Linked DNA regions of Homo sapiens: region 1 is linked to region 2. Evidence: fine-mapped expression QTL. A gene starts in region 2. The other region holds a variant in brackets. All regions are shown on one strand. Distances are from middle to middle. Region 1 has its middle 17 kb from the start of OR2AP1. Region 2 holds the start of DNAJC14 (DnaJ heat shock protein family (Hsp40) member C14).

The links.
Region 1: its variant is fine-mapped to the expression of DNAJC14 in pancreas (GTEx, PIP above 0.99).

What each region holds. Positions count from the first base shown.
Region 1 is chr12:55,581,532-55,597,906 of GRCh38, reverse strand. No RefSeq gene overlaps it. Among named protein-coding and RNA genes, the nearest start is that of OR2AP1, 17 kb to the right of the region's middle. RefSeq lists an enhancer at 7,092-7,652. The variant C/T (reference allele first, on the strand shown) is at 6,278.
Region 2 is chr12:55,823,363-55,839,737 of GRCh38, reverse strand. It overlaps DNAJC14 (DnaJ heat shock protein family (Hsp40) member C14), which reads left to right and starts at 10,151. Exons shown (of 7, transcript NM_032364.6): 1 at 10,151-10,249; 2 at 11,024-12,486; 3 at 16,230-16,336. The coding sequence starts at 11,080. MMP19 (matrix metallopeptidase 19) reads left to right here. Exons shown (of 9, transcript NM_002429.6): 5 at 1-242; 6 at 1,004-1,132; 7 at 1,731-1,895; 8 at 2,056-2,183; 9 at 2,364-4,305. The coding sequence ends at 2,702. It also overlaps the pseudogene TMEM198B. RefSeq lists enhancers at 8,684-8,883, 8,838-9,575 and a silencer at 10,104-10,213.

The DNA.
Region 1 (16,375 bases), 240 kb after region 2:
CAGTGCCCCCAGTATTTATTTTTTATTTTTATTTTTTGTAGAGATGAGGTCCCACTATATTCCCCAGGCTATTCTCAAACTCCTGGGCTCAAGTAATCCTCCTGCCTTGGCCTCCCATAGTGCTGGGATTCAGGCATAAGCCACACACCCAGATGGTAATAACCATTTCAACAGGAGTGAGGTGATAGCTCATGTGGTTTTGATTTGCATTTTTCTGATGATTAGTGATGTTGAACATTTTTTTTTCATATACCTGTTGTCATTTGTATGTCTTCCTTTGAGAAATTTCTGTTTAGGTCCTTTGCCTGTTTTTAAATTAGGTTATTTGTTTTCTTGCTACTGAGTTGTTTGAGTTCCTTATGTATTTTGGATATTAATCTCCTGTGAGATAAATAGTTTGCAAATATTTTCTCCCATTCTATAGATTGCCTCCTCACTCTGTTGATTGTTTCCTTCACTGTGTAGAAGGTTTTAAATTCGATGTAATTAATTTGTCTATATTTTTATATTTGTTGCTTATTCTTTTGTTGTTATATCCAATAAGTCATTACCCAGACCAATGTTATGAAGATTCCCCCCTTCGTTTTCTTCTAGAAGTTTTATAGTTTTGGGTCTTACATTTAGGTCTTCCATCCATTTTGAGTTGATTTTTGTAGGGAGAGAGGTGGGAGTCTAGTTTCATTCTTCTATATATGGACATCCAGTTTCCCCAGCACCATTTCTTGAAGAGACTGTCCTTTCCCCAAGACTGTCTTGGTGCCTTTGTCAAAATCAGTTGGCTATAGATATGTGTATTAATATCTGTGTTATCTATTCTATTCAATTGGTCTATGTGTCTGTTTTCATGCCGGTACCATGCTGTTTTTGTTACTACAGCTTTGTAGTATATTTTGAAGCCTGGTAATGTGATGCCTTTAGCTTTGTTCTTTTTGTCCAGGAGTGCTTTGCCTATTGGAAGTCTTTTGAGGTTCTATACACATTTTAAGATTTTTTTTTCTATTTCTGTGAAGAATGTCATTGGTGTTTTGATATGGATTGCATTGAATCTGTAGATTGCTTTAGGATTATGGTCATTTTAACAATATTAATTCTTCTGACCTACAAGCATGTGATATCTTTTCCATTTGTTTGTATCCTCTTTAGTTTCTTTCATCAGTGTTTTGTAGTTTTCCTTGCAGACGTCTTTCACTTCCTTCATTAAATTTATTCCTTGCTATTTTATTTTTAATAGCTATTGTAAATGGGATTGCCTTATTTATTTTTTCAGCTAGTTAGTTGTTCATGTATAGAAATGCTACTGATTTTTGCATGCTGATTTTGTATCCTACGACTTTACTTTTCAGTTCTAAGAGTTTTTAGGTTGAGTCTTTAGGATTTTTTATATATAAACAGAGACAACTTGATTTCCTCCTTTCCAATTTGAATGCCTTTCATTTCTTTCTCCTGCCTAATTACTTTGACTAGGACTTCAATTATGTGGAATGAGTGGTGAGTGTGTACTCCCTTGTCTGGTTTCAGTTCTTAGAAGAAAAGCTTTCAGTATAATGTTAGCTTCAGTATGTTAGACATTAGATTCAGTATAATGGGTTTAGTCATATAAGGCCTTTATTCTGTTGAGGTACTTTCTTTCCATACTTAATTTTTTGAGAGTTTTTATCATGAAGGGATATTGAATTTTATCAGGTATCTTTTCTTCATCTATTGAGATGATCATATGGTTTTTGTCCTCCATTCTGTTTTATATGATGAATCACATTTATTGATTTGCCTATGTTGGAACATCATTGCATTCCTGGGATACATCCCACTTAGTCATGGTGTATTATGGTTTTTTTTTTAGAATGTTATGAAATTTTTAATTTTTTAAATGTTTTTAAGAGTAAACTACTTGATAATTTTTTTTGTAATTTTTATTTTTTTTATTTTTTATTTTTTATTTTTTATTTCTTTTTATTATTACACTTTAAGTTTTAGGGTACATGTGCACATTGTGCAGGTTAGGTACATATGTATACATATGTGTCATGCTGGTGCACTGCACCCACTAACTCGTCATCTAGCATTAGGTATATCTCCCAATGCTATCCCTCCCCCCTCCCCCGACCCCACAACAGTCCCCAGAGTGTGATGTTCCCCTTCCTGTGTCCATGTGATCTCATTGTTCAATTCCCACCTATGAGTGAGAATATGCGGTGTTTGGTTTTGTGTTCTTGTGGTAGTTTACTGAGAACGATGATTTCCAATTTCATCCATGTCCCTACAAAGGACATGAACTCATCATTTTTTTATGGCTGCATAGTATTCCATGGTGTATATGTGCCACATTTTCTTAATCCAGCCTATCATTGTTGGACATTTGGGTTGGTTCCAAGTCTTTGCTATTGTGAATAATGCCGCAATAAACATATGTGTGTATGTGTCTTTATAGCAGCATGATTTATAGTCCTTTGGGTATATACCCAGTAATGGGATGGCTGGGTCAAATGGTATATCTAGTTCTAGATCCCTGAGGAATCGCCAGACTGACTTCCACAATGGTTGAACTAGTTTACAGTCCCACCAACAGTGTAAAAGTGTTCCTATTTCTCCACATCCTCTCCAGCACCTGTTGTTTCTTGACTTTTTCATGATCGCCATTCTAACTGGTGTGAGATGGTATCTCATTGTGGTTTTGATTTGCATTTCTCTGATGGCCAGTCATGATGAACATTTTTTCATGTGTCTTTTGGCTGCATAAATGTCTTCTTTTGAGAAGTGTCTGTTCATGTCCTTCGCCCACTTTTTGATGGGGTTGTTTGTTTTTTTCTTGTAAATTTGTTTGAGTTCATTGTAGATTCTGGTTATTAGCCCTTTGTCAGATGAGTAGGTTGCGAAAATTTTCTCCCATTTTGTAGGTTGCCTGTTCACTCTGATGGTAGTTTCTTTTGCTGTGCAGAAGCTCTTTAGTTTAATTAGATCCCATTTGTCAATTTTGGCTTTTGTTGCCATTGCTTTTGGTGTTTTAGATATGAAGTCCTTGCCCATGCCTATGTCCTGAATGGTAATGCCTAGGTTTTCTTCTAGGGTTTTTATGGTTTTAGGTCTAATGTTTAAGTCTTTAATCCATCTTGAATTAATTTTTGTATAAGGTGTAAGGAAGGGATCCAGTTTCAGCTTTCTCCATATGGCTAGCCAGTTTTCCCAGCACCATTTATTAAATAGGGAATCCTTTCCCCATTGCTTGGTTTTCTCAGGTTTGTCAAAGATCAGATAGTTGTAGATATGTGGCGTTATTTCTGAGGGCTCTGTTCTGTTCCATTGATCTATATCTCTGTTTTGGTACCAGTACCATGCTGTTTTCGTTCCCGTAGCCTTGTAGTATAGTTTGAAGTCAGGTAGTGTGATGCCTCCAGCTTTGTTCTTTTGGCTTAGGATTGACTTGGCGATGCGGGCTCTTTTTTGGTTCCATATGAACTTTAAAGTAGTTTTTTCCAATTCTGTGAAGAAAGTCATTGGTAGCTTGATGGGGATGGCATTGAATCTGTAAATTACCTTGGGCAGTATGGCCATTTTCACAATATTGATTCTTCCTATCCATGAGCATGGAATGTTCTTCCATTTGTTTGTATCCTCTTTTATTTCCTTGAGCAGTGGATTGTAGTTCTCCTTGAAGAGGTCCTTCACATCCCTTGTAAGTTGGATTTCTAAGGTATTTTATTTTCTTTGAAGCAATTGTGAATGGGAGTTCACTCATGATTTGGCTCTCTGTTTGTCTGTTGTTGGTGTATAAGAATGCTTGTGATTTTTGTACATTGATTTTGTATCCTGAGACTTTGCTAAGTTGCTTATCAGCTTAAGGAGATTTTGGGCTGAGACAATGGGGTTTTCTAGATATACAATCATGTCATCTGCAAACAGGGACAATTTGACTTCCTCTTTTCCTAATTGAATACCCTTTATTTCCTTCTCCTGCCTAATTGCCCTGGCCAGAACTTCCAACACTATGTTGAATAGGAGTGGTGACAGAGGTCATCCCTGTCTTGTGTGAGTTTTCAAAGGGACTGCTTCCAGTTTTTGCCCATTCAGTATGATATTGGCTGTGGGTTTGTCATAGATAGCTCTTATTATTTTGAGATACATCCCATCAATACCTAATTTATTGAGAGTTTTTAGCATGAAGGGTTGTTGAATTTTGTTGAAGGCCTTTTCTGCATCTATTGAGATAATCATGTGGTTTTTGTCTTTGGCTCTGTTTATATGCTGGATTGCATTTATTGATTTGTGTATATTGAGCCAGCCTTGCATCCCAGGGATGAAGCTCACTTGATCATGGTGGATAAGCTTTTTGATGTGCTGCTGGATTTGGTGTGCCAGTATTTTATTGAGGATTTTTGCATCAATGTTCATCAAGGATATTTGTCTAAAATTCCCTTTTTTGCTTGTGTCTCTGCCCGGCTTTTGTATTAGAATGATGCTGGCCTCATAAAATGAGTTAGGGAGGATTCCCTCTTTTTCTGTTGATTGGAATAGTTTCAGAAGGAATGGTACCAGCTCCTCCTTGTACCTCTGGTAGAATTCGACTGTGAATCCATCTGGTCCTGGACTCTTTTGGTTGGTAAGCTATTGATTATTGCCATAATTTCAGATCCTGTTATTGGTCTATTCAGAGATTCAACTTCTTCCTGGTTTAGTCTTGGGAGAGTGTATGCGTCAAGGAATTTATCCATTTCTTCTAGATTTTCTAGTTTATTTGCGTAGAGGTGTTTGTAGTATTCTCTGATGGTAGTTTGTATTTCTGTGGGATCTGTGGTGATATCCCCTTTATCATTTTTTATTGCATCTATTTGATTCTTCTCTCTTTTTTTCTTTATTAGTCTTGCTAGTGGTCTATCTATTTTGTTGATCCTTTCAAAAAACCAGCTCCTGGATTCATTAATTTTTTGAAGGGTTTTTTGTGTCTCTATTTCCTTCAGTTCTGCTCTGATTTTAGTTATTTCTTGCCTTCTGCTAGCTTTTGAATGTGTTTGCTCTTGCTTTTCTAGTTCTTTTAGTTGTGATGTTAGTGTGTCAATTTTGGATCTTTCCTGCTTTCTCTTGTGGGCATTTAGTGGTGCTATAAATTTCCCTCTACACACTGCTTTGAATGCGTCCCAGAGATTCTGGTATGTTGTGTCTTTGTTCTCGTTGGTTTCAAAGAACATCTTTATTTCTGCCTTCATTGCATTATGTGCCCAGTAGTCATTCAGGAGCAGGTTGTTCAGTCTCCATGTAGTTGAGCAGTTTTGAGTGAGATTCTTAATCCTGAGTTCTAGTTTGATTGCACTGTGGTCTGAGAGATAGTTTGTAATAATTTGTGTTCTTTTACATTTGCTGAGGAGAGCTTTACTTCCAAGTATGTGGTCAATTTTGGAATAGGTGTGGTGTGGTGCTGAATAAAATGTATATTCTGTTGATTTGGGGTGGAGAGTTCTGTAGATGTCTATTATGTCTGCTTGGTGCAGAGCTGAGTTCAATTCCTGGGTATCCTTGTTGACTTTCTGTCTCGTTGATCTGTCTAATGTTGACTGTGGGGTGTTAAAGTCTCCCATTATTAATATGTTGGAGTCTAAGTCTCTTTGTAGGTCACTCAGGACTTGCTTTATGAATCTTGGTGCTCCTGTATTGGGTGCATATATATTTAGGATAGTTAGCTCTTCTTGTTGAATTGATCTGTTTACCATTATGTAATGGCCTTCTTTGTCTCTTTTGATCTTTGTTGGTTGAAAGTCTGTTTTATCAGAGACTAGGATTGCAACCCCTGCCTTTTTTTGTTTTCCATTTGCTTGTAGATCTTCCTCCATCCCTTTATTTTGAGCCTCTGTGTGTCTCTGCACGTGAGATGGGTTTCCTGAATAGAGCACACTGATGGGTCTTGACTCTTTATCCAATTTGCCAGTCTGTGTCTTTTAATTGGAACATTTAGTCCATTTACACTTAAAGTTAACATTGTTATGTGTGAATTTGATCCTGTCATTATGATGTTAGCTGGTTATTTTGCTCATTAGTTGATGCAGTTTCTTCCTAGTCTTGATGGTCTTTACATTTTGGCATGATTTTGCAGCAGCTGGTACCGGTTGTTCCTTTCCATGTTTAACACTTCCTTCAGGAGCTCTTTTAGGGCAGGCCTGGTGGTGACAAAATCTCTCAGCATTTGCTTGTCTGTAAAGTATTTTATTTCTCCTTCACTTATGAAGCTTAGTTTAGCTGGATATGAAATTCTGGGTTGAAAATTCTTTTCTTTAAGAATGTTGAATATTGG[C/T]CCCCACTCTCTCTGGCTTGTAGAGTTTCTGCCAAGAGATCTGCTGTTAGTCTGATGGGTTTCCCTTTGAGGGTAACCTGACCTTTCTCTCTGCCCTTAACATTTTTTCCTTCATTTCAACTTTGGTGAATCTGACAGTTATGTCTTGGAGTTGCTCTTCTGGAGGAGTATCTTGGTGGCATTCTCTGTATTTCCTGAATCTGAACATTGGCCTGCCTTGCTAGATTGGGGAAGTTCTCCTGGATAATATCCTGCAGAGTGTTTTCAACTTGGTTCCTTTCTCCCCATCACTTTCAGGTACACCAGTCAGACATAGATTTGGTCTTTTCACATAGTCCCATATTTCTTGGAGGCTTTGCTCATTTCTTTTTATTCTTTTTTCTCTAAACTTCCCTTCTTGCTTCATTTCATTCATTTCATCTTCCATTGCTGATACCCTTTCTTCCAGTTGATCGCATCGGCTCCTGAGGCTTCTGCATTCTTCATGTAGTTCTCGAGCCTTGGTTTTCAGCTCCATCAGCTCCTTTAAGAACTTCTCTGTATTGGTTATTCTAGTTATACATTCTTCTAAATGTTTTTCAAAGTTTTCAACTTCTTTGCCTTTGGTTTGAATGTCCTCCCATAGCTCAGAGTAATTTGATCGTCTGAAGCCTTCTTCTCTCAGCTCGTCAAAGTCATTCTCCATCCAGCTTTGTTCCATTGCTGGTGAGGAACTGCGTTCCTTTGGAGGAGGAGAGGCACTCTGCTTTTTAGAGTTTCCAGTTTTTCTGTTCTGTTTTTTCCCTATCTTTGTGGTTTTATCTACTTTTGATCTTTGATGATGGTGATGTACAGATGGGTTTTTGGTGTGGATGTCCTTTCTGTTTGTTAGTTTTCCTTCTAACAGACAGGACCCTCAGCTGCAGGTCTGTTGGAGTACCCTGCTGTGTGAGGTGTCAGTGTGCCCCTGCTGGGGGGTGCCTCCCTGTTAGGCTGCTCGGGGGTCAGGGGTCAGGGACCCACTTGAGGAGGCAGTCTGCCTGTTTTCAGATCTCCGGCTGCGTGCTGGGAGAACCACTGCTCTCTTCAAAGCTGTCAGACAGGGACATTTAAGTCTGCAGAGGTTACTGCTGTCTTTTTGTTTGTCTGTGCCCTGCCCCCAGAGGTGGGGCCTACAGAGGCAGGCAGGCCTCCTTGAGCTGTGGTGGGCTCCACCCAGTTCGAGCTTCCTGGCTGCTTTGTTTACCTAAGCTCGCCTGGGCAATGGTGGGCGCCCCTCCCCCAGCCTCACTGCCATCTTGCAGTTTGATCTCAGACTGCTGTGCTAGCAATCAACGAGACTCCGTGGGCGTAGGACCCTCAGAGCCAGGTGCCAGATATAATCTCGTGGTGCGCTGTTTTTTAAGCCCGTCGGAAAAGCGCAGTATTCGGGTGGGAGTGACCCAATTTTCCAGGTGCCATCTGTCACCCCTTTCTTTGACTAGGAAAGGGAACTCCCTGACCCCTTGCACTTCCGGAGTGAGGCAATGCCTGGCCCTGCTTCAGCTCGCGCATGGTGCATGCACCCACTGACCTGCGCCCACTGTCTGGCACTCCCTAGTGAGATGAACCTGGTACCTCAGATGGAAATGCAGAAATCACCCATCTTCTGCGTTGCTCATGCTGGGAGCTGTAGACCGGAGCTGTTCCTATTCGGCCATCTTGGCTCCTCCCTATGTTTTTGATATATTGTTTGATTTTGTTTGCTAGTATTTTGTTGAGGATTTTTGTGTGTATGTTCATCAGGAATATTGGCCCATGGTTTTTTTTTTTCTGTGTTCTTTTCTGGTTTTGGAATCAGGGCCTCAGGGAATAAGTTGGGAAAAGTTCTCTCTGCATCAACATTTTGGAATAGTTTGAGAATAGCTGATATTAATTTTTCTTTAAATGTTTGGTAGAATTCAGTTTTGAAGGCATCTAGTTCTGGACTTTTCTTTGTTGGGAGACTTTTTATTATTACTGATTCAATCTTGTTACTTGTTCATGTCTGTTCAGGTTTTCGGTTTCCTCTAGGCTCCATCTCAGTAGGTTGTATGTGTTGAGGGATTTATCCATTTACTTTTGATTTTTGAATTCATTAGCATATAGTTGTTCATTGCAGTCTCTAATGACCCTTTATATTACTGTGTTTCTCTTGTGAGGGCTCCTTTTTCATTTCTGATTTTACTTATTTGTGTTTTCTCTTAATTTTTCTGTCCAGCTAAAGGTTTGTGAATTTTATCTTTTCAAAAAACCAACTTTTTGTTTTGTTGATCTTCTGTATTTTTTTAGTCTCAATTTTATTTATTTCTGCTTTGATCTTTATTAATTCTTTTTTTAGAACACATTTTATTTTTATTTATTTATTTATTTTCCACTCAATGGGTTATTGGTGGTACAAGAGGTATTTGGTTACATGAGTAAGTTCTTTAGTGGTGATGTGTGAGATTTTGGTGCACCTATCACCTGGGCGATAACACGAGACCCTTTTTGTAATCTTCAACCCTTGCCCCCTTCCCAACCTCCTCCCCAAGTCCCCAAAGTCCACTGTATCATTCTTATGCCTTTGTATCTTCATAGCTTAGCTCCCACATATCAGTGAGAACATACGATGTTTGGTTTTCCATTCCTGAGTTACTTCACTTAGAATAATAGTCTCCAGTCTCATCCAGGTCGCTGCAAATGCCATTAATTCATTCCTTTTTATGGCTGAGTGGTATTTCATCATATATTTCATCATATATATATGTATATATATATATACACAACAGTTTCTTTATCCACTTGTTGACTGATGGGCATTTCGGTTGGTTCCACAATTTTGCAATTGTGAATTGTGCTGCTATAAACATGCATGTGAAAGTATCTTTTCATATAATGGCTTCCTTTCCTCTGGGTAGATAACCAGTAGTGGGATTACAGAATCAAATGGTAGTTCTACTTTTAGTTCTTTAGGTAGTCTCCACACTGTTTTCCATAGTGGCTGTACTAGTTTATATTCCCACCAGCAGTGTAGAAGTGTTCCCTGATTACCACATCTATGCCAAAATCTACTGTTTTTTGATTTTTTGATTATGGCCATGCTTGCAGGAGTAAGGTGGAATCACATTGTGGTTTTGATTCACATTTCGCTGATCATTAGTGATGTTGAGCATTTTTTCATACGTTTGTTGGCCATTTGTATATCTTCTTTTGAGAATTGTCTATTCACATCCTTAACTTACTTTTTGATGGGATTGTTTGCTTTTTTTTCTTACTGATTTGTTTGAGTTTGTTGTAGATTCTGGATATTAGTCCTTGTCAGATATATAGATTGTGAAGATTTTCTCCCACTCTGTGGATTGTCTGCTTACTCTGCTGACTGTTCTTTTTGCCATGCAAAAGCTCTTTAGTTTAATTAGACCCCAACTATTTATCTTTGTTTTTATTGCATTTTTTTGGGGTTCTTGGTCAGGAAATCCTTGCCTAAGCCAAAGTCTAGAACGGTTTCTCCAATGTTATATTCTGGAATTTTTATAGTTTCAGGTCTTAGGTTTAAGTCCTTAATCCATCTTGGTTGATTTTTGTATAAGGTGAGAGATGAGGATCCAGTTTCATTCTCCTACATGTGGCTAGCCATATATCCCAGCACCATTTTTTGAAAATGATGTCCTTTCCCCACTTTATATGTTTTTGTTTACTTTGTTGAAGATCAGTTGGCTTTAAGTATTTGGGCTTATTTCTGGATTCTCTATGCTGTTCCACTGGTCTATGTCCCTATTTTTTTTTTTTTTTTAACCAGTACCACACTGTTTTGTTGACTGTGGCCCTATTGTATAGTTTGAAATCAGATAGTGTGATGCCTCCAGATTTGTTCTTTTTGCTTAATCTTGATTTGGCTACATGAGCTCTTTTTGGTTCCATATGCATTTTATAATTGTTTTTTTTTTCTAATTCTGTGAAGAATGATGGTGGTATTTTGATGGGGATTGCATTGAATTTGTAGATTGCTTTTGGCATTATGGTCATTTTCACAATATTGATTCTACCCATCCATGAGCATGGGATGTGTTTCTATTTGTGTCATCTATGATTTCTTTCAGCAGTGTTTTGTAGTTTTCCTTGTAGAGGTCTTTTGCCTCCTAGGTTAGGTATATTCCTAAGTATTTTATATTTTTTGCAGCTATTGTAAAAGGGGTTGAGTTCTTGATTCGTTTCTCTGCTTGGTCCCTGTGGTGTATAGAAAAGCTACTGATTTGCATACATTAATCTTGTATCTAGAAACTTTGCTGAATTCTTTTATTAGTCCTAGGAGCTTTCTGGAGGAGTCTTTAGGGATTTTGAGGTAAACAATTATATCGTCAGCAAACAGTGACAATTTGACTTCCTCTTGACCAATTTGGATGCCCTTTATTTCTTTCTCTTGTCTGATTGCTCTGGCTAGGACTTATAGTACTATGGTGAAGAGGAATGGTGAGACTAGGCATCCTTGTCTTGTTCCCGTTCTCAGAGGGAATGCTTTCAACTTTTCCCATTCACTATTATGTTGGCTGTGGGTTTGTCATAGATGGCTTTTATTACATTGAGGTATCTTCCTTGTATGCCAATTTTGCTGAGAGTTTTAATCATAAAGCGATGCAGGATTTTGTTGAATGTTTTTCCTGCATCTATTGAAATGATCATGTGATTTTTGTTTTTAATTCTGTTTATGTGGTATGTCACACTTATTGACTTGTGTATGTTAAACCATCCCTGCATCCCTGGTATGAAATCCACTTGATCACGGTGGATTATCTTTTTGATATGCTGTTGGATTCAGTTAGCTAGTATTTTGTTAAAGATTGCTGCATCTGTGTTATATTCTTTTGCTGAATTGATCCCTTTATTATTGTATAATGACCTCCTTTGTCTCTTTTTACAGTTGTTGGCTTAGAGTATATTTTATCTGATGTAAGTATAGCTGCTGCTCTGGTTTCCATTTGAATGGAATATCTTTTTCCATCTCTTCACTTTCAGTCTGTAGTGTCCTTAAGGATGAATTGAGTTTGTTGTAGGCAGCATACAGTTGGATGCTGTTTTTCTTATTTCATTCAGACCTCTATGTCTTTTAACTGGAGACATTAGTTCATTACATTCAAAGTTATTATTGTTAGGTAAGGACTTAGCACTGTCATTTTGCAATGATATGTTTTTTTGAGAAGTCTAGTGTGTCCTGGGCATAATGTTAAATAAAATACCTTTATTATATTTATGTATAAAGCTAGACAATATAACTTGTTTTCTTAATGTTCATTACACCATATGACTCCTAAAGAGGGAGATAGTTAGGGCATTTACCTTCTGTTGCTGTGATGGTCTCACACATTGGTCAAGAAATGTGAGAGATGGAGTGTGGTTTAGTATTTCCTCCCAGAAACTCCTTTTCTCTTTCAGTCTTTTGTACCCTGATAACTGTCCTCTGATGAGAGGTAGGAGGTCTTGTTCTTCCTCTATTTCTTCTAAGGCTTGAGAACTGCTCTTCCACTTGTTCCTGGCACTCTGGCTCAAACTTCTCCAAGTTTACCCACTTGCGATCTCTAAATGTTTACATGGAAATGATAAGTGTCATGTGACTCCTAATAGCTGCTAAATATGACTCTCCCTGACAAAAGGAATTTCAGATTGGAAGGAGTAGAGGGACATGGTCTTGGAAGGATCAGTGTTTGGCTTTGACCTAGAGTCCTATACACAGGATTAATTCTCAGCTATGTTTGGTGAGAGGAATGTTTGTATTTGAGGTTGATCCTAGATGATGTCTGTGATTAACTTGTGAACAATCTCTCTCCTCCGATCACAGTTTGGCTTTAGACAGAGAGTCTTAATAGATGAGTGTGCCAAGTATGGATTTTTGAGCAGCCAATGTGATAGAGAATTATAGCATACAGATTTCTTTAGGAAAGAGAAACATGGTCCTGAGAAATTACTGGAGAGCAATAACATATACACCAGGACAATAAGAGTTTAGAGAAAAGGCAACAAAGAGGGAGTAACAACAGAACAGTATAATTTACAGAAGGGATTGATTCAATCTAGTCTACAGCTTTGTGGGAACATGTGTTTGTGGGTAATTCTTGAGTCAGGAGGAAGACAAAGATATAACTTTATAGTACATAAGATAGCTCATTGTTTATTTTCTCTTCCAGCCCACACCACATATTGAGAAAACTAGAAGAGAATGAACTTGGCCAGAGGAGAATGAAGTAAGTGTAGTCATGAGCCAAACAGAACCAATTATCTTCTCTCTTTTGGGAATTTGCAGTTAGTTATAGATTCTGTGTTGGTAAACTATGGGTCATCAAGGTAGAAGGTAATATATAATAAATATGTATACATTTAATTTTGATAATATTTTTTCTTGTTTAAAAGAAACATTGTGGGATAAAAATGATAGTAAATAAATCATCCAGTTTGCCCTTGGATGATAATGCTGAGCTGGCAGAAGAAATCCATATCCAAAAGGAAGGGCTGTTTCAGTGAAGACAATTGCTGCCCCACTATAATATAAGGGGCCCTTTGCAATTAACTAATTAGCAATTAACTAATTAACCAATTGCATATGAAAGTAGCAGGTGCCATGCAATAGGCTTGGCTTTGATTTCTGCTATTAGAAGATTGGACACAGCAATGACAGTAGCCAGATGAGTCTTGGTAAGGAAAGTCTCATGCATAATTCTACAGTCCTTCTTTAATGTTTACTTTGTTTTTGAGCTCATTGAACAAGCATTAAAGTGGTGGAGAATAAGATTGGTTCTCATCCACAGAAAAAGTCAGCTTGTCTACCAACTTTTTAATAGATGTATGTATATGTCTGTTTGTTGAAGAAGACTTATGGTGAGTACTCATATTCATGTGGAATACAAGTATTCTCAACTCTAGTCACATTATGAGAGGTATATCTATGTTCTTCTACTGCAGTCATCCTGGAGTAGGTTAACCAATCCTCCATTTTTTAAATTCTAAATCCCTGATAACACAGATAAACCATTATTCTGCAATCATAAAATGGCATACATCTATACCTCTTTTTCTTGAATGACAAAACGTGTGGCTTATCAAGATGTGAAAGACTGTTTCCTGAATTGAGATTGTGATACCGATAATCTTATATCATGGATGTATCCCAGAAAAAATAAAGCATCTTGGAGCATTGGGCACCATGTCGGGATCCAGTCAAATGCAGAAATGGAGTAGAAGTAAGGAAAAATATAGAATAACATGGGAGAACCTAGAACTTTGGCCAATAATAGGGTTGGAATGTCCTAAGTTCCATTTTTGTTGGGTATTAATTGTGTATTATGGTGAAGAGTAGAGCTTAGTTTAAAATCACAGAACTAAAATCCGGGAAGGAATAATCAGGAATCTTTTGATTTCACATGACAGCAACCCAAGCCAAACTATCTTAAGTGAAGACAGAAATTTATAATTCACATAATGTATAAGTCCAGCAGTAACTGGTTTCAGGTGTTACTAGATCTAGAATACAGGGACTCAAACATAGTTACTCTCTCCCCATTTTCTTCTTTTAAGGTTGGTGTTTTTCTTGAGACAGATTTTTTCACTTGGAAGACAGTAGACAGTCTCCAATATATAGTCCTTGAAATCTATGATCCAGAAAGCATGGCACCATCTCTCTTTTCTTTCAAGTCTAAATCAAAAAGGTCATAAGGTCCATCTTGGTTCATATGCTTAACTCTGACTCAATCTTTTAGCTAGGGGAATGTGGTATCATAATTGAATGGGCCAGTTTGTATGTTTATCAATGACGTCAAATAAGGAGAGATGAGTGGATTGACAGTTCCATCAGAAATCCAAGACTGGAGCAGGGTGAAATATTTATCAGAGAAAGGGAGATGCTAACACAAACAAAAATGACAGCTATTGATAAAAGGAAGTTAATTGAATCAGGCAAGAACTGCAGGGGAACATTACTTTGTGAGAAATTGCCAAAGCCAAAGGCCTTGAGAGGGAGAATATGTGTGGAATAAAGAGTGAGTGATATGGGCATAAGTGGGGAGGGGTAACAGTTTGTGCTGAATCAACTTTTGATGTACAAGCTTCTGTTATATAATAATGAGACCCTTTTCATATATAGGATCAGACCAGTCAGAGGCACTAAATATGCACAGTATGAACCTGGTACTAGGCAGTCTAGAGGTGGATGACCTAGGTGGGCACAGTTTTAGCCCATCAAATTTATGATGATGCTACATTGTGAGCATGTATATATTCTGGGAGTAATTAGATCTATGCTATCAGAGACTTCACATCCAAAAGGTCCAAAAAGATGCAGGAAGCTCCTATGAAGAAGAAATAACTTTATGCAAAGCTGTGAAAGTTCTAGAATTTCCCTGCATTTTCTCATGCAAAGAATTGTTCACCCACAGTTCAAGCCAATAAATATTTAAATAATTAATAAGCCAGTTATAATCTATATAATCTCTTCCTTTTGGGTATTTATTTGCAATTATTCTTGACAGTTTTAGAAAAGAAAGCAAAACAAGGAATTGCTGGTGTAGACACTGAATTTCCATGAATTTTAACTACTGTTGATACTCTTCCTATTTTTAAGTTCTTAGAAATTTTATTGAAATTGTGATAATTTTCCAAAATTGCAGGAAGAACTAAATGTTATGACAGTCTGAATTTTTACTAGTGATATTTTTATGATTTTCTATATTTTTGGGAAAGGACAAACATAACATTGGTGTGGGAACTTAACATGAAATAAAGTATTATGGCTAGTAGGATTAGATAGCTGCCTCACTGTCCAGCTCCATCCAGACAATACTTGAATTATGGTACAGGCCTAACATGCCTAGTATCTATGGCATGTCAAACTGGAGACAGTATTTTCCAAGAATATTATGTTCTGTGGAGTTTTCTTTGTCACAAAGGAGGCTATATCATAATATTTTGGAGGAAGTATATATGATTTCATCAAATGCTACACATTTGATGAAAATGGTCACCAAGATTCTTTATTGAGATATTTAAAGTAGAGAAATGTTGTCTCCTTGTGTGTTAAATAAAGTAAAATAAATTAGAGAAACGTACAAAGAAATTTTTATACTCTTGCCTTTACTCTACTCAGGATTGAGGTTACAATGTTTTTCATATTTGTCTTTTTCTAAATTAAAGGAACATAGCATAGCAGATATAGTTGGAATATCTTTCACTAACTGACTCACAGATAATCATAGTTCAGATCAGAGAGTAGTATAGATGATCAGCCTCTGTGGCTGTATGGGAACCTTGACAGCAGTGCTGGCGGCTGGCCCCCTGGCCATCCTGGCAGCCACAAGGGAAGTCAAGGCTGCCTCAAGCCTGTGGGGGCCTCTGGGACCCCAGCTGAGGGACAGCAGCCTGCAGCCTGATGCCATCAGCCTGGGAGCTGATCCAGCAGTTGGTGATCAAGCTGTCCCAGGCAGTGTGGACCAATAACCTGCACACAGTGCTTGGCTGTGCAAGATCCTGCCCAGCAGCCCCACGCTCAGCATGTTCTTGGTCAACAGCCACTGCCTGTAGGATGGAATAGTAGACCCAACAATAATAAATGGTTTGGTGATTCCTGGAAGACCTAAAGGCAGAAATGCTGTTCAACCCAGCAATCCCATTACTGGGTATATATCCAGAGCAATATAAATCATTCTCTTATAAAGACACATGCATGCGTATGCTCATTGCAGCACTATTCACAATAGGAAAGACATGGAATTAACCTAAATGCCCTTCAATGATAGGCTGGATAAAGAAAATGTGGTACATATACACCATGGAATACTATGCAGCCATAAAAAAGAAAAAAATCATGTCTTTTGCAGGGACATGGATGGAGCTGGAGGCCATTATATTTAGCAAATTTACTCAGGAACAGAAAACCAAATACTGCATGTTCTCACAGGTGGAAGCTAAATGAGGAGAACACATGGATACATAGAAAGGAACAACATACACTGGGGCCTACTGGAGGGTGGAGAGGGAGGAGGGAGAGGATCAGAAACAATAACTAATGGGTATCAGGCTTAATACTTGGGTGATGAAATCTGTACAACAAACTCCCATGACACAAGTTTACCTAAGTTG
Region 2 (16,375 bases):
AGTCCTGGCCCATGCCGACATCCCAGAGCTGGGCAGTGTGCACTTCGACGAAGACGAGTTCTGGACTGAGGGGACCTACCGTGGGGTGAACCTGCGCATCATTGCAGCCCATGAAGTGGGCCATGCTCTGGGGCTTGGGCACTCCCGATATTCCCAGGCCCTCATGGCCCCAGTCTACGAGGGCTACCGGCCCCACTTTAAGCTGCACCCAGATGATGTGGCAGGGATCCAGGCTCTCTATGGTCAGTCCCTCCCCCTAGTGAGGGGGAGGGTCAGTCTGACTCCCACGTCAAGGCTTGAAGAGACAGGTCTAGCCTCCATGTAGGGATATAGCTTAGTGTCTTTCTTCTCCTCCAGCCCAGTTACTCAGGCTTCTTCATTTTCAGGAGCAGTTTTTCTCAGACTCTTCTATGTCTAATCTTCCTTCCAGGCCTCTCTCCTTACACCCATGCTTGGGGATGGAGAATGCACCTTCTTTTTTTTTTTTTTTTTTTTTGAGATAGAGCCTCACTCTGTCACCCAGGCTGGAGTGCAATGGCATGATCTTGGCTCACTGCAACCTCCGCCTCCCGGGTTCAAGCCATTCTCCTGCCTCAGCCTCCCAAGTAGCTGGGATTACAGGCACACGCAACCACGCCCAGCTAATTGTTTTTGTATTTTAGTAGAGATGGGGTTTCACCATGTTGCCCAGGCTGGTCTTAAATTCCTGAGCTCAGGCAATCCACCCGCCTCAGCCTCCCAAAGTCCTAGGATTATAGGCGTGAGCCACCACACCCGGCAAGAATGCACATTTTAACAATCCTCCTTCTCCCTTTCTGGTGTCTCTCAAACCTAGAACGTGTCTCCCGCTGATATCAACATAATATTGCCTACCACAAATGAAAACGCTCTAGGATTCCCTTTTCCCCTCTGTATGGGGACTCTGAGCAAAACTTACAGGAGACTGGTGTGGAGGACAGGTGCTGTGAGTTCTCTCCCTAAGCAGCATTACTTTACCTTATAGGCAAGAAGAGTCCAGTGATAAGGGATGAGGAAGAAGAAGAGACAGAGCTGCCCACTGTGCCCCCAGTGCCCACAGAACCCAGTCCCATGCCAGACCCTTGCAGTAGTGAACTGGATGCCATGATGCTGGGTGAGGCCCCTCCCCTCCAGGCTGTTGGCAGGCGGTGGGGGCAGCCTGCTGATCCTGAGGCCTGGACAAATGGGAGTGACATGGGACTTCAGCATGAGCAATGGAGGTTAGACCCCAGGCATTAATGACCATGGAAGGAGACATGTGACATGGGGAGGGAGAGTTCGGAGCCAAATTAAAGGTGGCTTAGGCAGGCACTTACCAAGGCTGCCACGCTCTAAGGGCCACTAGAACACATCTGGAAATGCAGCAAGATGGAGAAAACTATATTACCCAGATTGCCTGTTAGAGAGGGTGCACCTGGTTGGAAGGACAACTAGGAAGCCACTTGGAGGGGAGGGTGAGGTTCCTAAGGAGGAATAGCTATCTGCAGGGCTTTTGTTTTGTTGAGTGGACCAAAGCTGAAACGCTCTGAGCAACAAAGCATTCTGAGTCCTCTTTGTCTGCCTTTAATTTTCTCTTTGAATTAAAGTTGAATGAATTTTTGAAGAATCAGCCTGCAGGGAGAGGGCAAATTGTTAGTCAGCCTGAGATACCCCCAAGTTTCTGTCTACTTGACCTCTGTCTTTTTGACTTGTTGACACACCATTACGCTCAGGGCCCCGTGGGAAGACCTATGCTTTCAAGGGGGACTATGTGTGGACTGTATCAGATTCAGGACCGGGCCCCTTGTTCCGAGTGTCTGCCCTTTGGGAGGGGCTCCCCGGAAACCTGGATGCTGCTGTCTACTCGCCTCGAACACAATGGATTCACTTCTTTAAGGGTAAGGAGGCTAGTTACAGTGTCTTACTTGAGGAGGGCCTAATCTTAAAGAAACTATAAAAGGGAGGGAGATGAGAAGTTTCTGAATAGGTGGACCGGAGGAGACCAAAAGCTATCACCTGAGGACAGAGGTGACTTGTTCTTTCCTCACATGCTCTCAGGAGACAAGGTGTGGCGCTACATTAATTTCAAGATGTCTCCTGGCTTCCCCAAGAAGCTGAATAGGGTAGAACCTAACCTGGATGCAGCTCTCTATTGGCCTCTCAACCAAAAGGTGTTCCTCTTTAAGGTATAAAGTTCAAAGCAAGGGCAAATCCCTTCTTAGGAGGAGTGGGCTACCTTATACTGAGAAGCAAAGCTTGCGCTTGAAGGGAGATGTTCTGCAGCTGCAGTGGGCTGGGGGTGGACCCCTGGGGGTCCTAAGCTCTCTCCTCTTCCTCTCCCCTCTCCCCACCCATCCCATATCCAGGGCTCCGGGTACTGGCAGTGGGACGAGCTAGCCCGAACTGACTTCAGCAGCTACCCCAAACCAATCAAGGGTTTGTTTACGGGAGTGCCAAACCAGCCCTCGGCTGCTATGAGTTGGCAAGATGGCCGAGTCTACTTCTTCAAGGGCAAAGTCTACTGGCGCCTCAACCAGCAGCTTCGAGTAGAGAAAGGCTATCCCAGAAATATTTCCCACAACTGGATGCACTGTCGTCCCCGGACTATAGACACTACCCCATCAGGTGGGAATACCACTCCCTCAGGTACGGGCATAACCTTGGATACCACTCTCTCAGCCACAGAAACCACGTTTGAATACTGACTGCTCACCCACAGACACAATCTTGGACATTAACCCCTGAGGCTCCACCACCCACCCTTTCATTTCCCCCCCAGAAGCCTAAGGCCTAATAGCTGAATGAAATACCTGTCTGCTCAGTAGAACCTTGCAGGTGCTGTAGCAGGCGCAAGACCGTAGATCTCAGGCCTCTAACACTTCCAACTCCAGCCACCACTTTCCTGTGCATTTTCACTCCTGAGAAGTGCTCCCCTAACTCAGATCCCCTAACTTAGATTTGGCCCCCAACTCCATTTCCTGTCTGTCTTAGACAGCCCTTCCAACTGTGTCATCTCTTCTCTGGAGGTCAATGGTGGAGGGAGATGCCTGGGTCCTGTTCTTCCTACATAAAATGCAAGAAAACAGCATGGCCAGTAAACTGAGCAAGGGCCTTGGAATCCTTGAGAATCACATTTATGTGCTTATGATTACGGGCAAGCTAATTAACCTTGTTGAATCTCAGATTCCCCATTTGCAACATTAGGTTAAGACCAGTACTGCAGGATTGTTGCACTAAATGAAATACTGTATGTGAAGTGCCTGGCACAGTGTCTGGTACATTTGTGTTTAATAAAAGCTAACTCCATGTTCATAAGAGAGGACTGAACAGCTCTTCCTCTAGCTGTCTGGCTGTATAACTCTTACAGTAGTCTGTATAATAAGGGCATCTCTATTAGATCTTTAGGGGACAGAGGATTTGTCAAGATGGTTAGCTCTTTGTTTTGGGGTGCAGAGAAAGAAAAGAGCAGCAACAGCAGAGGCTGGACTCCCTGGTTCAGTATTTAATGCCATTTTATTCACATGCTCCCATGTTCTCCCTCCCTCCCATTGTAGCCTTGCTGCCCAGGGGAGGGATATGTCTTCCTTTATGCATCTGGGAAACCAGGAACAGACCCTGCGCAGGAGAGTCAGAGGGGGAAGAGTTAGAATGGGTCAGTGGCTGGAACAAAGTTCTGGTTAAGGAGGAAATTAGTGCCACCCACGGTGAGAAGCAGAGAAGGCACTTGCATCCTATGCAGCCCTGAAGACCAGGCTCCTTTGGGCAAAAGGCAAGACTCTGGCAGGTGGGTCAATGCTCTCTCCTTGGAGCAAGAAGCCAGCTTTTGGGGAAGGCAGGTCCTGAGGCAGGCACTGCCCTGTGGTCTTCCCCAGGTTGAGGAGAGAAGTGGAAGCCCCATGGAAGACAGTGCTCCCAGCTGAGGTAGGAGGCGGAGGTGGGGGTGGGGGTAGTTTAAGCCTATGGGGCCCAGGGGGAAAGGCCAAACAGAAACCCAACTACCCCCTAATGAAGGGCCTGGAGGTTGGGGTATCTTGGAGCTCCTCAGAGCCCTTCTTCCCATCAAAAAGGTATCAAATGCCTTGGAAGCTCCCTGATCCTACAAAACAAAAAAATGCTTATTTTTACCACTGTGAGGCAAGCTGAGGTGAACATTTAAAAGGCTATTTCAAGACGAGGTGCGGTGGCTATAATCCTAGCACTTTGGGAGGCTGAAGCAGGAGGATCACTTGAGCCCAGGAGTTCAAGACCAGCTTGGGCAACATAGGGAGACCCTGTCTCTGCAAAAAAATAAAAACGAATACATAAAAATTAGCTGTGTGTGGCGTCTGTGGTCCCAGCCACTCAGGAGGCTGAATGAGAGGCTCGCTTGGGCCGGGGAAATCAAAGTTGTCATGAGCTGTGGTCACGCCACGGCACTGGACAGAACAAGACCTTGTCTGAAAACAAACAAACAAACAAAAGCTATATGGGTAAGGCTTGGAGGGAATTCGGGAGTCAATTTCTTTGGGGACCAGGGCACCTCTATTATTGGTCAGAGGTAAATATTCATACTTCCCTTCCTCCCCCTTCCCCATAAGACTCTTCTCTGTTCTTGGAACATATCCCTACAAAGCTGGTCTGGGTTGAGGCACAGATCCTGTCCCCAAGTCCAAGAGGTGGGGAAGTTTGTGTGCAGGTCCTGTGGGCTCAAACCCTGCCCACCTAGTGTTCCCAGGCCCTCACAGGGGTAAGGGAAAAAGTGGAAGTCTAGGCTCAGGTCTGGTTAGAACCAGAGATTAAGGTGAGGGGTACAGTGGAACCACAGTCAGAATCCAGGTCCAGGACGGTGTGGGGGGCTGTGGTCTGGGGTCCTGGTCCCAGTTGGCACTCTTGAAGACTCTGGAAGTAACTCTGGAGGGACACAGGGCAGAGAGGGAGTAAGGAGGGGCCTGGGTCAGAGCCCCCCTCCCACCCTGACCATCCCCATATGTCCTCTGCTCCATCTGCCCAGGGTGTCCCCAAGTCCCCCACTCACTGGAGCGAGACTGTCAGCAGGGCTGCAGGTATTGGCAGGGAGCTGATGCCGACAGCTGCCCTCACAAAGCCCCACCCCAGAGGGGATCCAGTGCCATTTGGCCTTTTGCTGAAGGGTCTGAAGGAGTTGGAGATGGCTTTGCTGGTGGCTTAAGACCACTGCTGGCCGGGCGCGGTGGCTCACACTTGTAATCCCAGCACTTTGGGAGGCTGAGGTGGGTGGATCACTTGAGGTTGGGAGTTCAAGACCAGCCTGGCTAACATGGTGAAACCCCATCTCTACTAAAGATACAAAAACTAGCCGGGCATGGTGATGCATATCTGTAATCCCAGCTACTCGGGAAGCTGAGGCATGAGAATCACTTGAATCCAGGAGGCGGAGGTTACAGTGAGCCAAGATCATGCCACTGTACTCCAGCATGGGTGACAGAGTGAGACTCCATCTCAAAAAAAAAAAAAAAAAAAAAGACCACTGCTTCGGAGGGGGCAATACAGACTCAAGAAGGCCTCTTTAGGCCCTGAATCCTACCCTATACACACTCACATTCTAAAGAAACCCATTTGACCTTCCTGTTGTTTCTCTCAAGCCTCATCTTCCCCCCCCATTTATTCCTCTTTTTTTTTTTTTGAGATGGAGTCTCGCTCTGTCGCCCAGACTGGAGTGCAGTGGCGCGATCTTGGCTCACTGCAAGCTCCACCTCCCGGGTTCAAGCCATTCTCCTGCCTCAGCCTCCCCAGTAGCTGGGACTACAGGCGCCTGCCAACAGGCCCAGCTAGTTTTTTTTTTTTTTTGTATTTTTAGTAGAGATAGGGTTTCACCGTGTTAGTCAGAATGGTCTCGATCTCCTGATCTCGTGATCCGCCCGCCTTGGCCTCCCAAAGTGCTGGGATTATAGGCGTGAGCCACCGTGCCCAGCACCCCCCCGACAATTCATTCTAAAAGAAATTCTTCGAAATTCTATTTTTCCTCCTAGACTTCCCTGAGATCCTCCTTTCCTTCTGTAACTCTTTCCTGCTTCCCCTGACTCCTTCAACTTTTTTTTTCAGTGCCCTGCCCCATTCACCTTGGACATCCTCCCCCACTCTCCTTCCTCAAGTGTATTTCTCCCCTTCCCTCCTTAAGTCTAGGAACTGGGGACATGAGTAGGCACAGGTTGGCTGCTTCTGTACCACAGCACTAACTCACCATTAGCGTGGCCTCCATGTTCCTCAGGCACGAGCTTCCACTGGGCCAGGGCTCCAAGGGCCCCCAAGGCTGGCCAGATCCCCAGTAAGACCCAGCTATATCAGCAGAGAGAAGGCAAGGCTGGAAGTGTCTGCAGGCGTTGGCCCAGCCAACTCCCCAGTGCCAGCCCCTCCAGGAAGTAGTCAACACAGGCCACAAGCACTGCAGAACCCAGCAGGGTTGTGCCCAGAACTGTGAATGGACGTGGCCACCGAAGTGTGAGCAGGGCTCCCAGCAGCGCCAGCCCCACCAGCCCCCCAGCTGGCACCCAGGCTGAAGGTGGTTGGTAGATAGGCTCAGAAGCCAGCAGGGCTCCGGCACCCAAGGTCAGGCCTAGCAGGAGACCCGTCAATAAGAGCCCAACACAGTGAACCAACATGGTGACCACGCCGCAGAGGAGTCATGATGACCACGGCGATGCCCACTCTCATTTCCAGGCTCAGCTGTGTCTCCAGCACCCGCACCTTGTGGCACAGTAGGAAGCTCACCAGCGCTCCTGACAGCTGACCGGAGAGAAACGTCACTGTCTTGAAGCAGCAGTAGCCTGGGAAGTGAGGCAGGAGGAATTGAGAGGCAGGAAGGGGGCTCTACAGGGATGACTCTGATGAATTCCAAGGGAGAGGAATGGCTCACTAGAGGAGCAGAAGACAGGAGCAGCACGTCAAGGGACCTCAAGGCCAGGGGCAGAAAGGGGTCGCTTAGGGTCGGGGGGGGGCACTGTTTCAGGAACTGTGAGGGAATGGGAGGGAAAATCAAGAGGTAAGATGGATACATTGAGGGGAGTAAGGATAGAAAGAAGGTCTAGTCCTTTTAGGGATAGCAGATAGGAAAAAATCAGCACAAGCTGATTCAGGTTTTTGGAGAAGAGTGAAGAAGTCTGAAATATAGTGAATAATTTAGGAATGGGGTTTTCAGGTAGGAGTTAAGAGAAGAGCAAATGATAGATGCCAGAGGTGAAAGCTGGAAGGCATGGGCATGGAGGATGGACAAGAAGCTGGCAAGAGCAACATGGGCCTAGGAATACAGCCAGAGCAACATGGGCCACACTAGAGGTAGGAACCCCTGGCAGAGGAGGTGAGATGGCCCAGGAGCAAGGAGGAAAGCTGGCATCATCCTTGAGGATGACAGTCTTGGGCAATGGCCCCCCAGGTCCTTGGCCCTGCCCTCACTGAAGCAGCAGTAGATGATTCCAAAGCAGCAGCAAAGGGCACACACCAGGGCAAGTGCCAGTTCAGGATTGTCCTGGGGTTCCAAAACACATCTTGGGTCTGGAGGCTCTGGGAGTTGTTGATTAAAGGGCCTGGGGTCAGATGTCACAGCCAGGGGCAGCAAGACTTCCTCCATGGCCAAAGAGAAAGTGGTCACAGAGCGGGAGGTGTCAGCTCCTCTCACCCATCCATGAATGTCTTTAGGGGATTGGGAAACCTGCAGCGGGGCACGGGGCAGAAACTCAGGTGCCCATAAATCTTGAGGACTCTGTACCTCTATTTCTTTTAAATAATGGTGCCCATTTCAGGAGCCAGTATGACCCTGTTGAGGTAACTGAAGAAATCTACAGGATTGGATTGAGAGGAGCAGGATCTGTCTTTACCACTCTCTGAAACAAGTACACTTAAGTAAAATGTAAAATGAAATCTTATAAAGTAATGAAAATCTTATAAAGTAATGAGCCTTTGCCTCCCCCCACCACCCTGCAGCTCTTCAGGGTGAGGGTGGAAAGAACAGGAAGCCCTGGGTGTGTGGAGGGAGGGGTGCTGGGACATTATTGCCCCATCTGCGACTGGGACTTAATACTACCCCACTGGATTGGGAAGGGTGAGGTTAATAGAGAGGGGAGAGGGAGGGAGAACAGGAGAGTATGAGTCATGGTGGGGGTCTCTGGACAGCTGCTCCAGGCCCAGGGCAGAAAGAGGGAAAAAACCAGACACCAAGAGTTTGGGAGGAGGAATTAAGTAGAGACAGTCACCCACAGTTTGTCAGGGTTTTAAAGCCTCAGCTTCATGCTGAGATGGAGTTGTTGGAGGAAGAGGCATCCAGCCACAGTCCTAATCCCACAGCCCCTCATGGAATAAGCAGGGACTTTGCCCACAGACATCTCACATCCTGGTAGCCACTCGCACCTCCCCTTAGGATATTGGTGGGACTTTTCCTACCTCACCCTTCCCCCAGCGGTATCAGGGCTGCCAATGGGATTTGAATTCAAATCCTGAAAGGAGAACACCAAGGAGGAGCTGGCATTTCGGGCACTGTGGGAATGAAGTGGCAAAAATGCAGGCACATTACTTTCTTCAGCTGTCCTTTGGATATCAAGGTCCTTACAGGCTGGAGGGTTGACTCTCGGAGCTCCTCTCCTCAATCTGCTTGGAAGTCTGGGGACCCTGGACAAGCGGGGGTTGGGGAGGGGATGTTAACTACTCACCATCCTGCCAGGATTGAGGAGAGGAGGGGGTGGAAGTGCTTCCCTAGACCTCCAGATGCATCCCTGCTCGGAGGTCCTAGACGCCGGGGGTGCGGCTGTCGGTCAAGAGCACCCCCAGGGTCACTCTGTTGCTGCCTAAACTCTTTCAAGTCGCAGCCCAGGCTCTGTGAGCTAAATGCAACTAGCTTGCAGGGTGGAGAAAGGGGACAGGGCGTGTGTGTTGGGGTGTGTGTTTGTGTTTGTGTGTGTGCGCGCGCGCGTGCGCGCGGTGGGGGGAGGAGGGGTGACATCACAAGGCAGGCCCCTCCAATTCTTTCCCGTGTGTGTGGGGGGACCCAGGTTGCCTACTGCTCTAGTCCAGGACCAGAGACCCCCAACTATATAGCAGGTAAGAGTCTTGAGGGTCACCCCAAGAGTTTTGGAGAAGGGTCTCCGAATACTTAGGAGATGACAACCGGAAGCTCTCAAAGCCCCAATAGGGGTCCCAGCGCCCCCCTAGCTTCAGCTTGGTTTCTTCCACTTTCCAGAGAATTGGAGTATTGTCTCCTGGAGAACCGGGTGGTCGGGATCGTGGACCAGGGAAGGGGCTTTTGCTGGTCGGGGAGCGCCAACTGGGGGTTCATGGGTGGAAAAACTTTCGGATCAAGACGGGGTATAAGGCTAGAGGCGTGTGCAGAGGAGGGGACCGACGGAACGGGGACCCAACTGGGTCTACGTGGGGGCGGGGGCGCTTGTGGACGTCCACCAAATAGCTTGGTATGCAGATGAGATGTCAAGCAGCAGGTAGATGAGTTCAGTGTTCTTTGGCTCACGGGCAAAGTTCTGAGCCGAGCCAAGTTACGCTCCCAGTTCCTAGGCACCGCTCGGTGATCGGGCCTGGGGAGCTGCGACCCGAGGGGCGGATCCAGGTATAAGGGGCAGCTCGCCAGCTGGGTCAAGCGCGGGGGAGGCCGTGGGTTGCTGTGAAAGGAGGGGCAGTGCTGCGGGGCGAGGGAGGGGGCCAGCCGGGGCACCCTCTCCTCTGCTCCACCTCCGCACCGCAGGATACAAAGGGGCCTGTGTCCTCGCAGCTGCCGGCACGGAAGGGATCAGGGCAGTGACTCTTCTGAGCTCCCTGGTTTTGTCTGCAAGGGAAAAAGACTATATGTGGCTCGGTGGCTGCCCTCCATCTCCCAGGAATACAAAGCCTAGGAATACACCCAGAGCAATCCTGAGAGTCTGCCCTTAGTCTGCAGGCATTGGTGCAGAGTCCACCTGCCTTGCTTCCTGCGGTGCAACCTGCGGGAATCCCATTCCCACACGCGGAGGGAGGGGCCTTTAAATGGCGGGGCCAGTACTTCCTTAGGACCGCCTCCTTGGAGTCGACGCAGCCCTAGCTGGATTGGCTTGCCTCTCAGCCAACCGCTATTTCTTTTCCTTCCCGTCTCTTCCCTGGTGACCCCGGAAGTGGAAGTAGGCCCAGGTCGCCGGCGGCCGCGGGGACGGAAGGCGGAAGCAGAGCGTGAGCGGGAGGCGGAGCCGGGAGAGCGGCTCTCGTAGCTCACCCTGGCCCCAGGCCGGGCGGCTCGAGGGGGAGGAGTTACCGCCGTTCTTCGGTACGTCCGTCTTTTTTTTTTTTTTCGTTTTTTTTTGTTTTTTTGAGATGGAGTCTCGCTCTGTCACCCAGACTGGAGTACAGTGGCACGATCTCGGTTCACTGCAACCTCCACCTCCCGGGTTCAAGCGATTCTTCTGCCTCAGCCTCCCGAGTAGCTGGGACTACAGGTGCGCGCCACCACGCCTGGCGAATTTCTGTATTTTTAGTAGAGACGGAGTTTCACCATGTTGGCCAGGCTGGTCTCGAACTCCTGACCTCGTGATCCGCCGGCCTCGGCCTCCCAAAGTGCTGGGATTACAGGCGTGAGCCACGGTGCCCGGCCACCTTCGTCCCTTCTACACAGCCGGTGGGTTCCCTGTTAGTCTTTCTTAGGGGCAGCCCTAAGCTCCGCCCCCAGATTTTCCTCCAGGGCCGCATGGCCCCCACCCATTACTGGAAGTCTGTGGCCCCCTTTCCGGCGGTCTTTCCCATTTTCCTAAGAGTGACCCACCCTCCCCCGACCACACCCTTTACGGTACCTCCCTGTTTCCCTGATTGAAGGTTATAGTTTTCTGGGGAAAGAAGAAAAACTTAAGTGATTTGGAGGAGAGGGGAGGGAGCAAGCAGGGTTGTGGTGAGTCTAGTTTTGGCTTATTGCTAGGAATAGCGAATGCCCCAAAAGAACTTGGGAAAACAAGGGAGGTGGATGAATTAAATGTGTCCACTATTTGAGATTGTTTAATTCCTCTCTTGGTCTCATCCTTGACTGTCTCCACCTTGATATCTGTTACAGGCATCAGAACACACCATGATGGCTGTGACCTAAGACCCTCAGGAAGCCCCGGGGTCATGGCCCAGAAGCACCCCGGAGAAAGAGGGTTGTATGGAGCCCACCACAGTGGTGGTGCCTCCCTCAGGACTTTAGGACCCTCCGTGGACCCTGAAATACCTTCATTCTCAGGACTCAGGGACTCAGCAGGGACTGCTCCTAATGGTACCCGCTGCCTCACAGAGCACTCTGGTCCTAAGCACACACAGCACCCAAACCCAGCCCATTGGTTGGACCCAAGCCATGGCCCCCCAGGGGGTCCAGGACCACCTAGAGATGCAGAGGACCCTGATCAGAGTGAGACGTCTTCAGAAGAAGAATCAGGAGTGGACCAGGAACTCTCAAAAGAAAACGAGACTGGGAACCAGAAGGATGGGAACTCTTTTCTTTCCATTCCATCTGCTTGCAACTGCCAGGGAACACCTGGAATTCCAGAAGGGCCTTACTCTGAGGGAGGAAATGGTTCTTCTAGCAACTTTTGCCACCACTGTACCTCTCCAGCTTTGGGGGAAGATGAGTTGGAAGAGGAATATGATGATGAAGAATCTCTCAAGTTCCCCAGTGATTTTTCACGTGTGTCCAGCGGAAAGAAACCCCCATCCCGGAGACAGCGGCACCGCTTTCCAACGAAGGAGGATACTCGGGAGGGTGGACGTAGGGATCCCAGGTCCCCTGGTCGACATCGGCTGGGTCGGAAACGAAGTCAGGCAGATAAGCGCAAAGGCCTGGGATTGTGGGGAGCCGAGGAACTATGTCAACTTGGACAGGCAGGCTTTTGGTGGCTGATTGAACTGCTGGTATTGGTGGGAGAGTACGTAGAAACTTGTGGCCATCTCATCTATGCCTGCAGGCAACTGAAAAGCAGTGATTTGGACCTTTTTCGAGTTTGGATGGGAGTGTGGACAGGGCGGTTAGGGGGCTGGGCCCAGGTCATGTTTCAGTTTCTAAGCCAGGGGTTTTACTGTGGAGTAGGACTGTTTACTCGTTTTCTTAAGCTGCTGGGTGCTTTGCTGCTCCTGGCTCTGGCCCTCTTTTTGGGCTTTCTACAGTTGGGATGGCGGTTTCTGGTGGGACTAGGTGACCGGTTAGGCTGGAGGGATAAGGCTACCTGGCTCTTCTCTTGGCTGGATTCTCCAGCCTTGCAGCGTTGCTTGACTCTGCTGAGAGATAGCAGGCCATGGCAGCGGCTGGTAAGAATAGTTCAGTGGGGCTGGCTGGAGTTGCCTTGGGTCAAGCAGAATATTAATAGGCAGGGGAATGCACCTGTAGCTAGTGGGCGCTACTGCCAGCCTGAAGAGGAAGTGGCTCGACTCTTGACCATGGCTGGGGTTCCTGAGGATGAGCTAAACCCTTTCCATGTACTGGGGGTTGAGGCCACAGCATCAGATGTTGAACTGAAGAAGGCCTATAGACAGCTGGCAGTGATGGTGAGTACCCTTCTGTTTCCTGTTTCTCTCTTTTGTTCCCATATTTTTTTTTTTTTTTTTTGAGATGTAGTCTCGCTCTGTCACCCAGGCTGGAGTGCAGTGGCACAATCTCAGCTCACTACAACCTCCGCCTCCTGGGTTCAAGCGATTCTCCTGCCTCAGCCTCCTGAGTAGCTGGGATTACAGGTGCGCGCCACCATGCCCGGCTAATTTTTTTTGTATTTTTAGTAGAGATGGGGTTTCACCATGTTGGTCATGCTGGTCTCGAACTCCTGACTTCATGATTCACCCACCTCAGCCTCCCAAAGTGCTGTGATTACAGGTGTGAGCCACTGGTCCCAGCCTGTTCCTATATTTTCTATTCCAGTTTTAGGGAGAGTGGAATAAAGGGAAGGCAGAGTAGAAAGTTAACGGGTAGGTGAAGGTTAACGTTCTTCTTTTTTTTTTTTTCTTGAGACGGAGTCACGCTCTATCGCCCAGGCTGGAGTGCAGTGGCGTGATCTTGGCTCACGCAAACTCCGCCTCCCGGGTTCACGCCATTCTCCTGCCTCAGCCTCCCGAGTAGCTGGGACTACAGGCGCCTGCCACTGTGCCTGGCTAATTTTTGTATTTTTAGTAGAAACGGGGTTTCACCGTGTTAGCCAGGATGGTCTCGATCTCCTGACCTCATGATCCGCTCGCCTCAGTCTCCCAAAGTGCTGGGATTACAGGCAGGAGCCACTGTGCCCAGCTGGTTAACATAGTCTTAGGAAAGAGTCATAAAGACTTTTTGGGCCAGGTGCAGTGGCTCACACCTGTGATCCCAGCACTTTGGGAGGCCAGGCTTGGTGGCACATGCCTGTAGTCCCAGCTACTCGGGAGGCTGAGGTGGGAGGATCAGTTGAGCCCAGGAGGTCGAGGCTGCAACAAGCTGCGATCATGAACCTACAGTCTGGGCAACCAAGCCACACCATCTCAAAAAAAAAAAAAAAAAAAAAAAAGATATTTTCCCCTCCACTATGGGATCTGATCTTCCCTCCATTTTGTTTGTCACGAGATATATTCTTTGAACCTGGTATATTGGGCAGTGTAGAACTCACTCACCTGGAAAATCTAGGTGAAGTCCCTCTAACTGGAGTGGGAAAAAGACCTATTCAGAGAGCACCTCAGTTGCTCTTACCTGAACAAATGAGGGTTTTCTTTTTTTTTTAAACATGGGGTAACCCAACTATTTCTCCCAGAGAAGCAAATATGGACCTAGTATGGGAGGGTCAGGGAGTGCATGTAAGGATTTTAGCACCAGGTAGGAGAAAACAGGCTGTTTCAAGATCAGCAACTCAGAATAGGAGAGGGCAAGAAAATGGAGGTGTATGCATATGTATGTCATACATGAAAATATGGTTGCTTTTATTGATAAGAGGGTGTGCAGGGCCAGGCGCGGTGGCTTACGCCTGTAATCCCAGCACTTTGGGAGGGTGAGGTGGGCAGATCACAAGGTCAGGAGATCGAGACCATCCTGGCTAACATGGTGAAACCCTGTCTCTACTAAAAATACAAAAAAATTAGCCGGGTGTGGTGGCGGGCGCCTGTAGTCCCAGCTACTCGGGAGGCTGAGGCAGGAGAATGGTGTAAACCTGGGAGGCAGAGCTTGCAGTGAGCCGAGATCGCGCCACTGTACTCCAGCCTGGGCGACAGAACAAGACACCGTCTCAAAAAAAAAAAAAAAAAAAGAGGGTGTGCAGATGGGAGTTGTCATGCACCTTATGCTTGAGGGAAATGGTTTAATACAAGCATGCAATCAAATTGCATTAGAAGTAGATATTAGGTTGATATTAGATAACAGATTGTTACTGCTATTTCTGTACAAATAAAACTATTATGAATATAAGTAAGGTGTGTAAATTGGAGGCCTACTTACACTGGAGTGTATGGAGCTGGACTGGTAAAACATCACAGTGTGCAAATTACCTCAATGGCTGCATGACACCAAAGAGGAATGGGCAACTAAAGTTTCCATTAATGATTAAAGGTACAGTAAACCACCACACCTGTAACTTACCAAAGGACTGAATTAATTTGGTGGGAAATGTATGCCCCTTAGTAGGTAGCTTGGTATATTCTTTTTTTTTTTTTTTTTTTTTTGAGACAGGGTCTCACTCCAGTTCCCCAGGCTGGAGTACAGTGGCAGGATCTCAGCTCACTGCAGCCTTGATCCCCCAGGCTTAGGTGGCTTCCACCTCAGCTTCCTGAGTAGCTGGAACTACAGGCGTGCATCACCACACCTGGCTAATTTTTTGTATTTTTAGTAGAAATGGGGTTTTGTTATGTTGGCTAGCCTGATCTCGAACTCCTGGACTCAAGCAATTTGCCTGCCTCGGCCTCCCAGAGTGCTGGGATTACAGGCGTGAGCCACTGCGCTTGGCTTCTGCTGTATTCTTAGAGTGGGTAACAATTGTTTACTCTCATTGTTACTAATTCTACTAGTAGTAGAGCTCTTTTCTCACTTTCTTTTAGTAGACATCCTGTTTTGGAGAATATTATTCTTAACAAAAATTCTCATTTTTCAATTTCTCTTGAAGTAGAGATGTAGTTAAGTTCCCCTAACCTCAAAACATCTATCCCTATACCCCAAAGATCTCTCTCTGTCCTGGACCAGAGTGTCTCTGGGCTTTTATTGAACCTCTCACTGCCTTACTAAGCCCTAGTGTGAACATGACTAAAAGGCTGTTCAATTAGCTTGGGAATGTGGGAAATTTGACAGCATTTTAGTTATTTGGCATCAGTCAGGAGACTAGCTTTATCTCTGCATTTTTGGGGAATGGGGATGGGTACAATCAGGAAGCTGTAGGAAGAGAGGATATTACTTGTCTTGGAGAGAAGGCTGAAAAGTACATAAAGTCTCTGAGACCATGATATGCTATTTCATTTCTGGGACTGAAAGGCATATCACTGTAGGAAGTTTTGGATATGAGAATTTTCTAGTTAAAAAAGAGTTTCAAGATGTAACATCTTTGGAACTCTTATTTTATGACTGATACATGTGTGTGCCAGAGACCAACTGTCCCTGTTCATCTGGGATTGAGGAGTTTCTAGAGGCATGGGACTTTTTAGTGCTAAAACTGGGACAGTCTCAGGCAAACTGGAATGATGAATCCACCGTAGTACCTGATTCTTTGCTACATACTTCATATATATTCTTATTTAATCCTCCCAACAATCCATGATAGATATTCAGGCTGACATGATAGATAATCCCAACAATCCATGATAGATATTCATGATGGCACACGCCTGTAATCCCAGCACTTTGGGAGGCTGAGGTAGGCAGATCTCTTGAGGTCAGGAGTTCGAGACCAGACTGGCCAACTAGATGAAACCCCGTCTCCACTAAAAATACAAAATTAGCTGAGTGTGGTGGTGCATGCCTGTAATCCCACCTACTAGAGAGGCTGAGGCAGGAGAATTGCTAGAACCTGGGAGGTGGAGGTTACAGTGAGCTGAGATCGTGCCACTGCACTCTAGCCTGGGTGACAGAGCGAGACTTCATCTCAAAAAAAAAAAAAAAAAAAAAGATATTCAAGGTAATGTAGCTAATTATAACAGAGCCATGAATTGAACCAGATCTGCAGAGTCAGAGCAGTTAATCATTAAGCTACACTGACTCTTCAAAAGGGTGATGAAAGAGAACCCTTTGATATGAGAATAAATTCAAGGTGAGGAGAGGGTTGGAATGGATTTGTAATGAAATCTCTCTGTCTTGGTAGGTTCATCCTGACAAAAATCATCATCCCCGGGCTGAGGAGGCCTTCAAGGTTTTGCGAGCAGCTTGGGACATTGTCAGCAATGCTGAAAAGCGAAAGGAGTATGAGATGTAAGTTGGAGATGGGAAATCATCAGATAATGGTAAATG